Linked DNA regions of Homo sapiens: region 2 is linked to region 1. A link means that fine-mapping ties the variant in region 1 to the expression of a gene that starts in the linked region. Tissue or cell type: whole blood. Region 1 holds a variant in brackets; the other region holds the start of a gene. All regions are shown on one strand. Distances are from middle to middle.

Evidence for each region. PIP is the estimated chance that this variant, and not a neighbour inherited with it, causes the effect.
Region 2: ANKRD34B starts here. The variant in region 1 is fine-mapped to the expression of ANKRD34B in whole blood (INTERVAL, PIP above 0.99).

The regions. Positions count from the first base shown.
Region 1 is chr5:80,406,995-80,415,100 of GRCh38, forward strand. ZFYVE16 (zinc finger FYVE-type containing 16) reads left to right here and starts at 1,070. Exons shown (of 19, transcript NM_001284236.3): 1 at 1,070-1,159. RefSeq lists an enhancer at 1,032-1,830 and a silencer at 1,551-1,670. The variant A/ATT (reference allele first, on the strand shown) is at 4,140.
Region 2 is chr5:80,566,036-80,574,141 of GRCh38, forward strand. ANKRD34B (ankyrin repeat domain 34B) reads right to left here and starts at 4,245. Exons shown (of 5, transcript NM_001004441.3): 1 at 4,119-4,245; 2 at 2,925-3,072; 3 at 654-739.

The sequences.
Region 1 (8,106 bases):
TGTTGCTCAGGCTGGAATGCAGTGTTGCCATCAGAGCTCACTGCAGCCTTGACCTCCTGGGCTTAAGTGATCCTCCCACTTCAGACTCCCAGCCAGTAGCTGGGACTACAGGCACGCGCCAACACGCCTGGCTAATTTTTTCATTTTCATTTTTAGTAGAGACAGGGTCTTGCTATGTTGCCCAGGCCTGTCTGGAACTCTTGACTTCAAGCGATCCTCCCGCCTCGGCCTCCCAAAGTGCTGGGATGACAGGCGTGAGCCACCGCGCCGGGTCTCATTTAAATTTATAGGAAACTTGTGGTAAAAATAGCAAAACTCAACAAGCAAATATACATCAAGTGAGTGACATTTTATTTCTACATCAGATAAGTCAGCTTTTGCTTTTAGACAGGGAGACAGCTGTTCTACCAGCTGCTTTAAAATAAAAATGCAGAACTAACGCAGCGAAGGGAAGGAAAGTGTGGCTGGGAATGTCCAGTCAGCTGGAGGGGCTTGGAGCTCGGCGTTGGCTGGGAGCATTTTTATTGCTGCCGGGAGGAGGAAGGGGAAGCGGGGGAAGCGGGGGAGGCGGGGGGGCAGCGTGTTGTAAAATCAGTTTGAAGTAAACAAAAAGTTATGTTTTCCGAGGGGCCAGCAGCGCGGAGAGCAGGCCTAGCCCGCTGCCGGGAAGGCGGGTCTGTCCAGTAGAGACCGGAACGCCGCGCAGGCTCAGCAAAGGGCTAAGGCTGGAGCCGGGGAAGCTGCCTCTAGGTTAGCGAAGGGTAAAGGAAGTCAGACACTGACGCGAGTGGCCTCCCGATCCCGCAGTCGAGTGGAGAACCGAGTCCCGACCTAAGGTCGAATCATCAGGCGTCCCCGTCACCCAACAACCCACTCAGGCACTTCCGGTAAGAAATCTAGTGCCCTTGGCTCGGAACCTGCGTCGTAGTGCGCAAGCGCCCCGGGCCTGGAGACGGCCGCGGATGCCGAGGGAGGGGGCGTGTGAGCCGAAGAGGAAAGCGTCCTCTGCGCCTGCGCTCTCTGCGCTGCCCGGTGGGGCGGGGAAAGAAGCCCTGAGCCGGGATCTGGCACTCCCAGGACTCCCGGCCGGGGTAGCTCTTCACTCCTCAGCGCGACGTCGTGTCGAGTTCCCAAAAAGCTCCGCAGGGGCTGTAGGGAGGTAAGAGCCCCCCGTGACCGGTCGTCTCGGCCTCCCCTCAGCCCTGCTGTTCCCACAGGGGGGCGGGGTGACCGCTGGACCCGCCGACCTGGGCGCTGGGTCTGGCCCTCTTCCTCTGGGGACAGAGCCTGGGCCCCGACCGATTCCTTTTCCGAGCCCCCGGAGCTGGCCGGGGAACCCTGGCCCTCCAATCTGATGTCCCCTCCTGGAGCCTGAAGGGCCAGACCGGACTGGACCGGGAGGGCAATCACGGCGGCTGTTTGCCCGGTTCCCCGCTCCCGGGCCGCCGGAGTGTTCGGCGCTCCTGGGGGAGAGACCCCAGCGGACGGAGGGAGAAGCGCCCTGGCGCCGCCGTCCCGCCTGGGGAGGGGCTGCGACTGCGGAGGGGACTGTGGTTCTTCAGGAGTGGCAGAGGCTCGGTCCCCGCAGAGGAGTCTCATCGCCGCCGGTGCTCTCGCACTGTCCATTCCCGCACCCATGCATTTTCTCTTGGTTAGAGACCAGAAGGATGCAGTGGCCGTCTTTCCCGCTGCCTTTCCTTTGGTACTTTTGAGAACTCCAAAAGAGGACCTTATTTTTAACTCTTATTTGTACTATCGTGATTGCAAATATTATGTTCCAGACTAAGGATGTTCTTTCTTATTAGTTTGACTTGTATGAAAACCAGTCCATACATTTGATATTAAGTTAATCTTTTCAATTCAAAAAATAGGCACTTTGTTGATTCAATCAGATTCCTCCATTTATTCACTTGAGCTTGTCGTCTCTTGAGTTGGCGGGAGTTTAATGGTTTAATCCAGTAGAACTATATATAATTTTTCGCCTAATTTCTTCCTTTTTTTCCTCTCCTGGATATTAAACCGCATGCTTAGTGGCAAAAATTGAAAAAATAGAATAAAGAATAAGGAAAAATGATCAATCATAATTCCACCATGTAATAGTAATCAATTACTTATAATATTTTGACTTTTTTCCTTTGAGTCTTTTTTTCCCCTGTGCATTTTCTTGAGATGAGATTTTATATCGTTGGATTGTCTGCTTTCCTTGATTTAAATTACGTTGTAAGCATTTCCCCATGTTTTTAAAAAGCTTCATAAAAATGACTTCTTGATTATACATGAGCAAAGTATCTTTTGAAACAGTTATATTACAGATAAAGCCAAATCCGCATTAATTATCCTCAATCATAATGTTACATGATAGAATAGTGCTACAGTTCATTTAACATTATGATTGGGGATAATTACGCTTAAAAATTATTGAGGACCAATAGAGTTTTTGGTTCCTAATGCTGCAGTATATTTACCATTTTGGAAATTAAAACTCAGAAAATTGAAAATGTTTTATTCATTTAAAAATCACAGACTCATGTATTAAATAATTTTTTAGTGAAAAGTAACCATTTTCTAAAACAAAACTTAGAAGAGGAGCGTGGCATTGTTTCAAATTTTTGCGAATCACTTTAATGTCTGGCATTATAGAAGACAGCTGGATTTTCATGTTTGCTTCTGTTCAGTCTGTTGTGCTATCTGGTTTAGGTTGAAGCATATGAAGAAAACACCAGCCTTGAACAGATACGTAGCAGGAAAAGCGAGGATCTTACAAGCCTGCTGAAAGGCTCCTGGGGACATCCAGGGGTCCTGAGACCACAGTTTGAGAAAGCTGATTTAACCATTTTTGGATTGGTGGGCTGTTAGGTTGTTTAAAATTTTACACTGTTACAACCCTTGCAACAGTGAAAGTTCTTTGTGATGTTTTCTGGTGTATGCGTGCTAGTGTTTTTTCTGTAAGTAGAATTGCTAGGTCATAGAGTTTTGCTTTTTTTTAAGTTTGTTAAACACATTACTTTTGATGCCTGTATAATTTGCTTTTGTGCACTAATGTTGGTGTTTAGATTGTTTCAACTAATGATTTGGTGAAATATCTTTGCATGTTTTTAGTTGTTTTGAATTATTTTCTTTTTGAGGGGGCTGGGGGGAGTCCAGTAAAAACCAGACAACTGCCAGATACATTTTAAGAGAGCTTTAACACATGGATTCTTTTCTAAAATTTCTAAAAAGATAATTGTTAGATCAAATATTAGGAATCTTTCTCAGGCTATTGGTACATATTGTCACATTGTTTTCATGGGAGATAGTACCAGTTTGTTTCCTGTCAGCAGTGTCTGACATGCTTTAAAAAAAAAAATCACACCCTTACCAACATCGAGTACTTTTATTATTTTAAAAAATTGTTTCAATTTAGCAGGCAATAAATGGTATATGTTCTAATTCTCATTACTTTGATAGTGCACTGAATAATTTTCATAATCTTACTAGTTGTCTGTTGATGTTATTTGCTCGTTTATAGTCCAGTATCCAAGTGTTTTTCTAACACATTTTTATCTTCTTAAATATATTGTAAGGAAACGTGCTGTACTTTGTTTGTTTGTTTTTTAAGACAGAGTCTCGCTCTTTCGCCAGGCTGGAGTGCAGTGGCGTGATCTCGGCTCACTGTAACCTCTGCCTCCCGGGTTCAAGGGATTCTCCTGCCTCAGCCTCCTGAGTAGCTGGGACTACAGGCACGCGCCCCCATGCCCAGCTAATTTTTGTAGTTTAGTAGAGACAGGGTTTCACCATGTTGGCCAGGATGGTCTCGATCTCCTGACCTTGTGATCCGCCTGCCTCGGCCTCCCAAAGTGCTGGGATTGCAGGTACGAGCCACCTCACCCGACCTTAGGAAACGTGCTGTACTTTTTTTTAAAGGAAAACAACAAAATTATGTTTTCTCGGTTTACAAGAGCACATGCCTTTTTTTTTTAAATTTATTTTATTTTTATTGATTTAGTTTTTTGAGATGGAGTCTCGCTGTGTCGCCAGGCTGGAGTGCAGTGGCACCATCTCGGCTCACTGCAACCTCCGCCTCCTGGGGTTCAAGCGATTCTCCTGCTTTAGCCTCCCAAGTAGCTGGGGCTACAGGCACGTGCCACCACGCCCAGCTA[A/ATT]TTTTTTTTTTTTTTTTTTTTTGTATTTTTAGTAGAGACAGGGTTTCACCATGTTGGCCAGGATGATCTCGATCTCTTGACCTTGTGATCTGCCCACCTCAGCCTCCCAAAGTGCTGGGATTACAGGCATGAGCCACCACGCTGGCCAAGTATATGCTTATAAAAAAAAAGTAAAATAGTATGAAGACATATCATGTAGCTCTGAAAGGCTTACATAATCCCATTCCTAGATTTATAGTATTACTAACATCATTAATGTTTGTTCCTTCATATTTTTTTACTATGCATTTGTTAATTTTTTTTACAACTTATTTGTAAAAATAGGTTTGCACTATGCATAAAGTTTTGTGATTTGATTTTCTTTCATTTAACATTATATATTGGATATTTTTCTACTGAAGTACATATAACTGGGCAAAGTTTTATCCTGAGTGGTTTTAGGAACATGAGTTGTGATCTTTAGTTATCTGATGGCAGGCTCTTGTCCTCTTCTAAATATATTCTCTTCCTAGGTGATCTCATCCATTAACAGCTGTGTGTTGCCAGTTCCCAAATCTTTATCTATCTCAGACTTCTCTCCTGCATTCCAGATTCTTATATTCAGCTGCCTTTTGGATATCTCTCCCAGGATGTTCTCAAGGTACTTCAAACAGTCCAAACGTGAACTCATGTTTTCCCTTAATCCTGCTCCTCTTTGTATTGCCTGTCATGGTCAGTGGCACCACCATCTACCCTAGCCACTCATGGTGGAAACCTGGCACTAATCCAGCTTTCTCCCTTGCTTTCGGTCTCCAAAACTTCTCATTATTTTGCCACTTTTATTTCATTTTATTATTTTTATTTGAGACAGGATCTCACTCTGTTGTCCAGGCTGGTCTCAAATTCCTGGGCTCAAGCTAATCCTCCCACCTCAGGCTCTGGAGTAGCTGAGACCACAGGCGGGCATCACCATGCCTGGCTCATTTTAGCCACCTTTATATGTATTTCCTTTTTTTCTCCACTGCATTATCTCAGCTCAGGCCTTCATCTCTTACCTTAACCATTTTAGGTGTCTCCTTACTGTTGGTTTTGTTGGTTTTCTGGTTAATCTTCCATGTTACTGCCAATTTTTGTAATCATGAAGAGATTTTTAAAAACCATTTTATTGTAAATATTACGAAGATTTTTTCTTAAATTTAAAAATATATAAATAGCCAAGTGAGTAAAAATACTACCTAAAATAAGTTATATGTATACATAAATAAACCTATTTTAAAAGGGAGTATATCTTATATTTCTTTTATGTCTTATACTGAATATGGTAGATTATTGGCACAAAAAGTACATACTGATTGATTGAAATGGGAAATATACACAGCTTAATGAGATTTCATGTTAAAACATTTCAGTATACCGTATTTACATTGTCATATCATACCTTTTACAAATTATATTATCTTTTTTTATATCTTTCTTGGCACCTGAAATTACATAATGCTTAGTAGAGCATTGCTATATAGATAGGAATGTTTTGTAAATATATGTTATTTAATGAATTCCATAATTTATTTCTAAAAAATTCTCTGGCTTTTGCTAATAAGAAACTATTTCTAGACCTTTCAGTTTCTGTGCTTAATTTGTTAAATACATCCTGTATTCAGAGTTCCGTTACTACTACTTTTTACTATTATGTTTATTTTAAATTTAATGTTTATATTTATCGAAGGGATACCTGTACATAAACAGTCAAATAGTACTTCAAGGATTATAATGAAAAACTGTCTGGGTGTGGTGGCTCACGCCTGTAATCCCAGCACTTTGGGAGGCTGAGGCAAGAGGATCACATCAGCCCAGGAGTTTGAGACCATTCTGGGCAACATAGTGAGACCTTGTCTCCACAAAAAATAAACAAAATTAGCTGGGTTGTGGGGCACACACCTGTTGTTCCATTTACTTGGAAGGCTGAGGTGGGAGGATCGCTTGAGCCCAGCACGTGGAGGCTATAGTGAGCTAATATCGTGCCACTGCAGTCCAACTTGCGCAACAGAGTGAGACCCTGTCTCAAAAAAGAAGAGAGGGCTGGGTGCGGTGGCTCATGCCTGTAATCCCAGCACTTTGGGAGGCTGAGGCAGGAGGATCACCTGAGGTCGGGAGTTCGAGACCAGCCTGACCAATATGGAGAAACCCCATCTCTACTAAAAATACAAAATTAGCCAGGCATGGTGGCGCATGCCTGTAATCCCAGCTACTTGGGAGGCTGAGGCAGGAGAATCGCTTGAACCTGGGAGGCGGAGGTTGCAGTGAGCTGAGATCGCGATATTGCACTCCAGCTTGGGCAACAAGATCAAAACTTCATCTCAAAAAAAAAAAAAAGAAAAAAAAAAGAGAAAAACAACAATCTTCTGCCCCAGTCCTTCTCACCCCTGAATCCCACTCTCCAGAAGCAGTCTTTCTCAATCAGTGCTTTCTGTCTGAATCACTGAACAAGAAAAATGATTTGAGCAACTATTTTCTTAATTCTCCCAAAGAGGGTAGGTAGCTAATAATATGATGGATGCATAGGAGAGAAGTTAGTTTATTACATAAAATGGAAGCCTTAGGGCATTAAAGATTAATTCTCTCGCCGAACCTTAATTGAGAAAGGCTGCTCCAGAGTCAGTGACTTCAATTCCTTATCACTTCCAGTTTTTTAAAATGACATATTTAGATATATGGCGATATCCCCTCCCCATTCCCATCCTAATGCGATTTGAAGTATAGTTTACTCATTTCCTATTACAGAAGATGGGAGTTTAGGTTTTTTGTACCAACTCCTACCTTTAAACACTGCATTTCACTTCCCCTCTCCCCTCTATATTCCCAAATTAGTTACATGTTAACTTTTAGTTATTTGGTGTTTACCTCATTTTAACTATGTAAATATTGTATGTAGCTGAACAAGGTAAGTGTGAGGTTATTTCCTTTCTTGTATAATTTTTGTTTTTCCTAGTTAATATCTTAATTCTTTTGTACATGTACCTTTTATATTTCTTTATAAATAAATGTTTTATATCTTTTTAATGTGTCTTTTGTATTCTTTATTTGATCTATTAATCTCTTGAACCAGATACATCAGTCTCCTCTTAGTAGATTCAAACACATCTGATAATCTGTTTTGCGACATCTTTCCTGCCTCCATCTTGATGGGTTGCTCTCTAGGCCTGTTGCACAACTCTCTTCCTGGACTGCCCTTTTACAGTCATCTGTGAATTGCATTTGTCTCTTCTGTGTGGGTAGCCTCTTTTTCTTGGATTTCAGGTTTTCCTTTTTCTTGGTGTCTCCCTTATATTGGCAGAGTATGTTTTTGAGTAGCTTCCTGAGAGAGACAGAATGGGATGCACATATTTTGGGTTCTTGCATGGTCAACCATTTTTTTATTTAACCCTCACATTTATGATAACCAATCCTTTGATTGTGACCTGTTATATCTCTTTGGAAGCGTTTATATTTATTCAGCAAGTATGTATTGAGCACATTTTATGTGCCGGGCACTGGTCAAGACATTTTGAATATATAGGTGAACAAAAATACAAGATTCATGTCCTTATAGAGCTTAAATTCAGGGAGGGAGGAGTTGTTCAACAGCAAATATAATAAATAAATTATACAAAACATTGGGAGTTTGTAAAGTAAATAACTGCTTTAGAAAAGAGAAAAAAGAGCAGGCTGGGGTGGGAAGTTCAGGAATGTTGGGGAAAGGAGAGGTAGGGGATGCAGACTGTAGTATTAAATGGGGTGATCCTCCCTTCAACCATTCAGGTGTTCTGAAATTTCACAATGATGTTGGTTGGTAAGAGTTTTTCATTCATGTGTTGGGCCCCAAATGGGCCCTTTCCATTTGGAGACCATATCCGTGGTTTATTTGACAGTTTCTTCTTTCCCTCCCTTCCTTCTTTCTGGACTTCTTTTATTAGAATATTAAACCTCATTAGATTGATTCTCTAATTTC
Region 2 (8,106 bases), 160 kb after region 1:
AGATGCCACCAAAATAATAAGCACTGAGTTATTTTTAAAAAATATTTTAAATATGTGTATTTTTAAGAACAAAGAAAATTGGAGGAGAGATACCATTAGATGAGCAATTTCAAACAAGCTCTGGAAATGGGGGGATGGTGGAGTGGCAAATGGCCTTAGCATAGCAGAGGAGGCTGCAGGACATAGACCCAGGGAGGCTGCTTACCCACAGGACCTGTGACATTTAGGACTTAGAGGTCCCAAGTGCCATAGAAAATGGCAATGAGTATCAGGGCTTAGAACAAGAAGATGATTGAAAGTCTGTGAACAGAACGACTGGACCCCTACATATTCTATCCCACCCCAGGAATCAGACAACCACTTTCCTAGGCAAGAAAATGAAGATTTATTTTCTAAATTGATCAGAAAGGCTCCAAACTTAGAGGCAGCTTGCTGAAAACAGGGATTCAGTGAGCATGTGCAGGCCAAACGTTGAAGTCCCCAGCTCCTTGCCCTGCTACGAGGGGACTGGAAGCCAGGAAAAGGAAGTAAGACACATTGCATCTTGGAAAGATGAGCCCTATTAAAAATATCTGTCGATACATGAAAGAAATTCAAACCATAACTGCATTCACCCTTCCAGACACCCACTCTAAATGGAAATAGAAACTTACCTGAAAACATTATTCAAAATTTCACACTTCACTTTTGTCTCTTCTCTCCCTGGATAAGTTTTCTGTCAGCCAGCTGTCAGTTCCTACTGAAGGAAATCAAAGCTATTCAGAGTTACATAAACACCAATAATTTGTTACATGCATCTTTCCCATTTGGAGTCTAGTTTTTAAATTCCTTATTAAGAAATCCCCCAATGTTTGCTCAGTTAGTCATATCTCACTGATTATGAGTTTGTAAAGTGTCTGGAGATTCTATGCACAGCAACCCCGTGTGTGTCTGCCTGCAGGGCTGAGTCTGCCATGCGAGGACTGCTGGGGTTGGAAGGGCCTCGGCACTCACTTGGTGCAGATCAGGAGGCTGAGAAAGGAAAGGTGAGGGCACTCTCCCAAAGCCAATCATCTTACTCACCTGTTTGCCAGAGGTCAATTACATGTTTGTGTCCTTTATCTCAATATCACCTTGCTTCTTGGATGAGCTTCGCACGGAGTAGGACTGTTTTGAGGGCCTGATTTGTGTGTTATCTCACATGGCAGTGCTGCATGAGCTGAGGTGCTTGCAAAGCCATCTTGGAGACGATAGGCCAGGCCTTTCCTGTGGCTTTTTGTCCCCATGCCACCCCCAGTTTTCCTTTCATTAAGGCAGAAAAGTGGCCGGGCATGGTGGCTCATGCCTGTAATCCCAGCACTTTGGGAGGCCGAGGGGGAGCGGATCAACTGAGGTCAAGAGTTTGAGACCAGCCTGGACAGCATGGTGAAACTCCATCTCTACTACAAATACAAAAATTAGCCGGGCATTGTGGCGGGTGCCTGTAATCCCAGCTACTCAGGAGGCTGAGGCAGGAGAATCACTTGAACTCGGGAGGCGGAGGTTGCAGTGAGCCGAGATTGCACCACTGCACTCCAGCCCGGGTGACAAAAGCAAGACTCCGTCTCAAAAAAAAAAAAAAAGAAAAGAAAAGAAAAGAAGGAAAAGTTATTTTCTTTTGAGCCTTTCACTCTACCTCCAAATAGGATCCACGCTTCCTCTCATAAAGTTCATCATCTGGCCATGGTGGGGAAGAACTTAACAAATGGGTTTGAACTCAAAATTCAGCCCGTCGCCCTTGCCCCAGTCCCTGCCTATGTGCTGCCCCAAAGGGGATTAAAGACTGCTCAGATGAGGCAGCAGGGTGCGTATCAGGGACCTGGGCTCCGGATCTCTCCAAGTTATCAACCTCTGGGAGGTCATTCTTCTGAGCCTTAGTTTCCTCACCCCTGAAATGGGGATAATATCTACTTTACAGTAGATGATTGTGAGGATTTTAAAAGATCCGAACATACTTGCTACTTACGAATTCAATAAATGTCCATTTACAAACATGCATCACCAAATACAGGCACTGCATACAGGAATCCTCAGGACTGATGGGGTCTGACGATGGGATGCTAAGTTCCCTATACCAATGGGTTCTTCTTTTGTGGGCATAAGAAACACATGGAGTGCCTGTTAAAAAGAAAATTCTAGGCTCCACTCCCACATATTCCATGGGAGGTGCTTCTAATGCACACTTGGAGAAAATCTGAGGCAAACTCTTCATTCCTCATTCCAGGCCACTTCCTGTTTGCTATGGACCCCTGCCTCAGATTCACACAGAGCTGTCTCCGACATTACTTCCAAGTGGTGCGATGCTCGGCTCCCCTGCAGGAGTGAAAGGCAGAGATAGATGGCTGCCACAGCCTAGAGACGGGTCCAGGGAGCTCACAGGTCCCAGAGAAGAGGACAGCCTTGAATTAGTAGAATGGGCCAGGAGCTGGAGGTTTGCTGCCCTGCCTTTCCTAGACGGGTTTGAAAAAACCCAGAGCCCTAGTGGGCAGCCGAAGGCCAGGAGGGAGGCCAGCTACACTGGAATAAGGCAAGCCTGCTTGCCACAAGCAAATGTGTACCTCCTCCCACCCAAGGAAAGGGGCAGAGACAGAATAAAAGATGCATCTGAGGTCGTCCTGGAAAATGGAATGACTGGCCAGAAAAAGATTCTTCCCTGGTATTGACTTGCAAGAAATATTTAGAAACTGTCCAAGGAGACGCGTAGCTGGTAAGGTTTGCTGTGTTTCCCACACATACCCGCAAAGGGCTGCCGTGTTCTCCTAGTTACTTCGGCTGTCCCCCAGGCCTTTGGGGCATCTATGCCCCAACCTCTGTTACTGATTCACCTCCCCCCAAAACACACACACACACACACACACACACACACACACACAGAGAGAGAGAGAGAGAGAGAGAGAGAGGCCAACCTAGTCCTCCAAGTCTCAGGGAACCAAGGTGATGGGATTTCCAAGCTGTTGAGGATGCTGGCAGCGTCTCCACGGTCCCCGCCGACCCCTGGAACCAGGCGCGTTTCCTCAGTTTTTCCTGAGAGCAGGAGGAAGCGAGCTCAAGGCGCTGTCGGAGAAGGGCAAAGGAAGGTGACTGGGGCGACAGCTCCAGGGCACCGATGGGGGCGGGGTGCGCGTTTCGTCGCCTCATCTCTGAGCCAGGGCAGGCAGCTGGCGGGCTAAGGCGATCACCATCCATGAAAACGGGTTCTGCCCACAGCCGCTGCGGAGCGGTCCCTGCGCCGCTCGCCCGCCGGCCGGACGCGGCCCTCCCTTGGGAAATGGTGCGTCTGAGGGGCGCAGCCACTGCCCCCATCCCGGAGCAGGCGCACCTCTGCACCCGGCTCTCTGCTAAGGGGGTCCGGTATCCTGGTGCCAAGGCTGTGCGCACCTGAGAAGGGCGGGAACCGGCTGCCCGCCCCTGTGTGGCTCCTGGAAGCAGGAGCTCCTGGAAGCTGCAAAGGGCTCCGCAGTCCCCAGCCCGCCCCCAGCGCCCAGCCGGCACCTCCTGCTGCCCAGCTGCCGAGGCACCTGCGGAGACGCGCCCAAGTCAGCCCCTCCGGAGACGCGCCCAAGTCAGCCCCTCCGACCCGCGCGCTCTTGCGGCCCAGCGCGCGCCGCTCCCGCTGCTGCGCCGACCTTCGCCCATCAGGCCCCCCGCCCCGCATCCTCCTCGACACCCCGCGGCCGGGCAGCCCTCGCCGGTTCCCGCCGCTCGGCGAGGCTGAGAAGGAGGCGGAACCCGCATCCCCGCGGAGTCCAAGCCCCAGCGGCCGCAAAACTGGAACCGAGAACCAGTGGGAAAGGCAGGAGGCGCGAGGGTGAGCTCGCGTGGAGCGCGCCCCGGGGTGGCGGGGCAGAGTCTCTCGGGAGGCCCCTGCAGCCCGGCGGCCCTCGGCTGGCCCTGGGTCTCTCATCCTGCTCGGGGCACTGCAATGTCAGGGTGAGCGGGAGGTGCGGGCTTCAGGGGCTTGCGCGCACCGGGCAGGGAGCACTGAGGCCGTGCGGGCCGCTGGGTTCCACGCTGCGCCCTCGATGTCCTCCTCCCGGCAGCCGCCACTGCAAGCCAAAGTTTCCCAAGTGCAGCCGGCAGGGACGGCGCCTCACACTGACCTGGGACGCGCTGTCGAGTTGGCGGCGGCGCTTTCAAACCTCTCTCCGGCACTGCCCGACCCTCTGTGCGGCCCTAGGGCGCCGTCTGAGCTGAGCTGTGGTCTTCGGCTCCTCGGCGCCTCGAATCGCAGATCTCGGTAGATGCCGCCCAGTCCCCGCCCTGCTTGCGGAAAGAGGCGGGCGACTGCCGCGAAGCGCTGGAGCTGGGACCCGGAGCGCACACCTCGCCAGACGCCCGGGCAGCGAGGCGCTTCCGCTGGGGGTGACGCGTCGGCTCCAGGCTCTGCGCAGGTGAGGGCGGCAAGGCTCCTCTGGACCCAGGGGGGCCAGCAGCTGCTGGAAGCTCCGCCTTCTGTCCCCGTAAGTCCCACCCCCGTCCCCCGCTTCGGCCACCGCGCTTCGGCCACGGCGACTTGGCCAACAACAGCGGCAGCAGGGTCTCCCCATTGAGGGAAGCACGCACCCCTACGTCACGGGCTTTGGCTCCTCCAGTCCGTATCCCTCCCCTCAGCTCACATCCACCCGCTGGTTCATGGGTCCATCTGTCCCCACCGGTCCTTCCACCCCTCCGCATCCCTGTACCCACTTCAGGTAAAGCCAGAGCCACACTTCAGGTTGGGGTGTTAGTGGGAACAACCGTTCTTATTTACGTCTTTAGGAATTTATAAGGTTATTATGCTATTATTAAAACATGAATAAACATATTAACAAAATTTCGAAAAATACATTTCATATGTTAAACTCTACTGAGAGATGAAAAGGAAATGAAGCAGAAGCAACTTTTTCTGTCGTTTTTAGTTTTTGGTTTTTTTGAGACGGAGTCTCATTCTGTCACCCAGGCTGGAGTGCAGTGGTGTGATCTCGGCTCACTGCAACCTCTGCCTCCTGGGTTCAACCGATTCTCATGAGCCAGCCTCTGGAGTAGCAGGGATGACAGGTGTGCACCATCACGCCTGGCCAATTTTTGTATTTTTAGTAGAGATGGGGTTTCACCATGTTGCCCAGGCTGGTCTCGAACTCCTGACCTCAAGTGATCCACCCACCTCGGCCTCCCAAAGTGCCGGGATTACAGGTGTGAGCCACAACGCCCGGCCAGAAGCAAAGTTTTTAACTCTTCATTTATCTTGGAGGGTCTGGTGGAGAAAGGCCATCACTATTTTTGTTATTCAGATAATGTCAATCAAAACTTGTTTATAGTTTTGAGTTCTCGGGAAAAGTAGATTTATCTCTGGTCAGGCTTCCTTTATTAAAGAAAAGATCTCTCCGAAATGAGGACCTAAAGGGTCCTCATTTAGTAAACATATGCAAAGCAATTGCACAGGGTGCTTTACCCCAAAGTTAGGCTCTAGGGAGTTTGAATCCTATATCTGGGCTGCCCTTTGCCTACAGCTGTTTGTTTGGAGGTTACCAGGAAGACTGAGCCAATTTGCATGAAGGCACGGGGCTCCTCCCCCTTACCACCTCCGACTGTTCTCTTAAAAAAATTTCATCAATGTGCAGTGTACCTATTAAAAGGCAAATATTTTGGCTGAGTGCTGTGGCTCATGCCTGTAATCCCAGCACTTTGGGAGGCCAAGGAGGGTGAATCACTTCCAGGTCAGGAGTTCAAGACCAGCCTGGCCAACGTGATGAAACCCCATCTCTACAAAAATACAAAAATTAGCCAGGTGTTGTGGTTTATGCCTGTAATCCCAGCTACTGGGGAGGCTTGGGCAGGAGAATCACTTGAACCCAGGAGGCAGCAACTGCAGTGAGCCGAGATAGTGCCACTGCACTCCAGCCTGGGCCACAGGGCCAGACTTCATCTCAAAAAAAAAGACACACATTTCACAAGTCCGATGATTTTGCACAAAATGAGCATCATCCAGATCAAGAAGCAGAACATTACCAGTACCCTCACAACACTCCCTCTTCAGATTTCTCATTGGAGGGAGTGGTGGCTTCAAACAGCATAGAGTAGTTTTGTTTCTTTTTGTACTTTATAGTGATTGAATCACTCTGTTGACTGGCCTCTTTCACTAATAGTATGATTAAGAGATGCATACTGTGTGTGGCTGTAGTCTGTTTATTCTTTTTGCTGTATAGTATTCCGTTTTGTGATTGTGCCTCAATTGCTTATTCATTTTACTACTGATAGACATTTGGGTAATTCTCAGGTTTGGGACATTACAAATAATGCTGCTATGAACATTAAAATAGATGTCTTTTGGTGACCATATATACTTATTTCTGTTGGGTACATACCTAGGAGTGGAATTGTGAGTCATGATGTAGGCATATGTTCAGCTTCTGGAGATGCCACCAAACAGCTTTTCAAAGCAGATGATCCAATTTTCACTTCTACTTTATTAGTTTTCTATTGCTGCTTGTTACCACAAACAAAATCACCACGAACTTATTGTGGCTTAAAGAACACAGATTTATCCTCTTACAGTTCGGGAGGTCAGAAGTCCAAGTTGAATTTTATGTGGTTAAAACCAGAGTCTCAGCAAGATTGCATTACTTTTGGGGGTTCCAGGGGACAATCTGTTTCCTTGCCCTTTCTAGCTTTTAGAGGCCATCTGCATTCTTTGGCTGGTGGCCCCTTCCTCCATCTTCAATATCTGTCTCTCCCTCTCTCTCCCTCCCTGCCCTCCTCTCCCCACTGCCACGCTTCTGTTGTTACATGTCTCTCTCTCCCTCTGCTTCCTTCTCTCCCTCTGACTCTCCTGCCTCACTCTGGAGGACCTTTGTGATGACACTGGACCCACTTGGATGATCTTCCATTTCAAAATCCTTCATTTAATCACAGCTGCAAAATTAATTTGGCCTGTAGGGTAACATATTCATAGATTCTAGAGATTAGGACATTAAACTCTATGGCGGTTCATTACTCAACCCACCACACCTATCAGCAGGATATTGGAACATGTTGCATGAATGGAGGATGGACTGAATAAACAGAGGATAATGAATTTACAATTTACATTGTATCCCAGATACAATTTACCTGTAGGATTTTTACTGTTGACCTGGGTGCTGTGCCAGGACTGGTGGGCAGGAGAGGAGGGCTGATGCTGGAACACCACTTCTAGCCACCACCAACCTGCTGGCACTACGTGATTTGTGCCTGGGGGCACCCATGCTGAGTGACATGTTAGAGAAGGCAGATCCTCCTTCGTGGGAGTTGGTAACAGCAGTTAAACAGTGGTGAACACATCACATTTTACAGTGGGAAAGGCCCTGTGGTCAGTGGACAGTGTCGCATCACATGCCACAATGGTGGAATTATGAGGACTGACTTCCACAGCAGGAGAGTTAAGGGGAGGTCTGGATTAGACTACAAAGCTCATCTGGTAACCTGGGCAGGCCAGTCCATGCCATCGTTGTAATCTGAATGTTAAAGGGAGATGATTTTAACATTCAAAGTCTGAGAATGAGAATTTCTAGATTATACCTACTTCTGATCTCAGTTTAGTCCAGCAACTACACCCCTGAAGGAGAGAGGACAGATGTTTTTATCCTCATTTTAGCAAAGGGACTGCCAGGGAGCAAAGCTCCATGATTCACCTAAGAAGCCTCAGGAGAGGAAACAGGAACAGAAGGAAGCTCCCAGCTCTTCCCGCTGTCCTTTGTGTGGCTCCACCTCCCTGGAGTGTAGATTCACTACGACCTGAGGTCATGGAAGCTGAGGACCCAGAACCGACCCAAGCCATTCAAACCAAATTGGATACATCCTACTTTGTGAGTGATAGACTGGGATTCTCTGGAATGTGAGACTCCCTGTCCTCATGGTTTTATGCCATCAAAAAATATATTTTAGAAACAAGTAGAAGTAGATGCTTGGGCCAGGCGTGGTGGCTCATGCCTGTAATCCCAGCACTTTGGGAGGCCAAAGTGGGTGGATCATCTGAAGTCGGGAGTTCGAGACCAGCCTGGCCAACGTGGTGAAACCCCATCTCTATTAAAAAAGAAAAATACAAAAAATTAGCTGGGCATGGTGGCATGC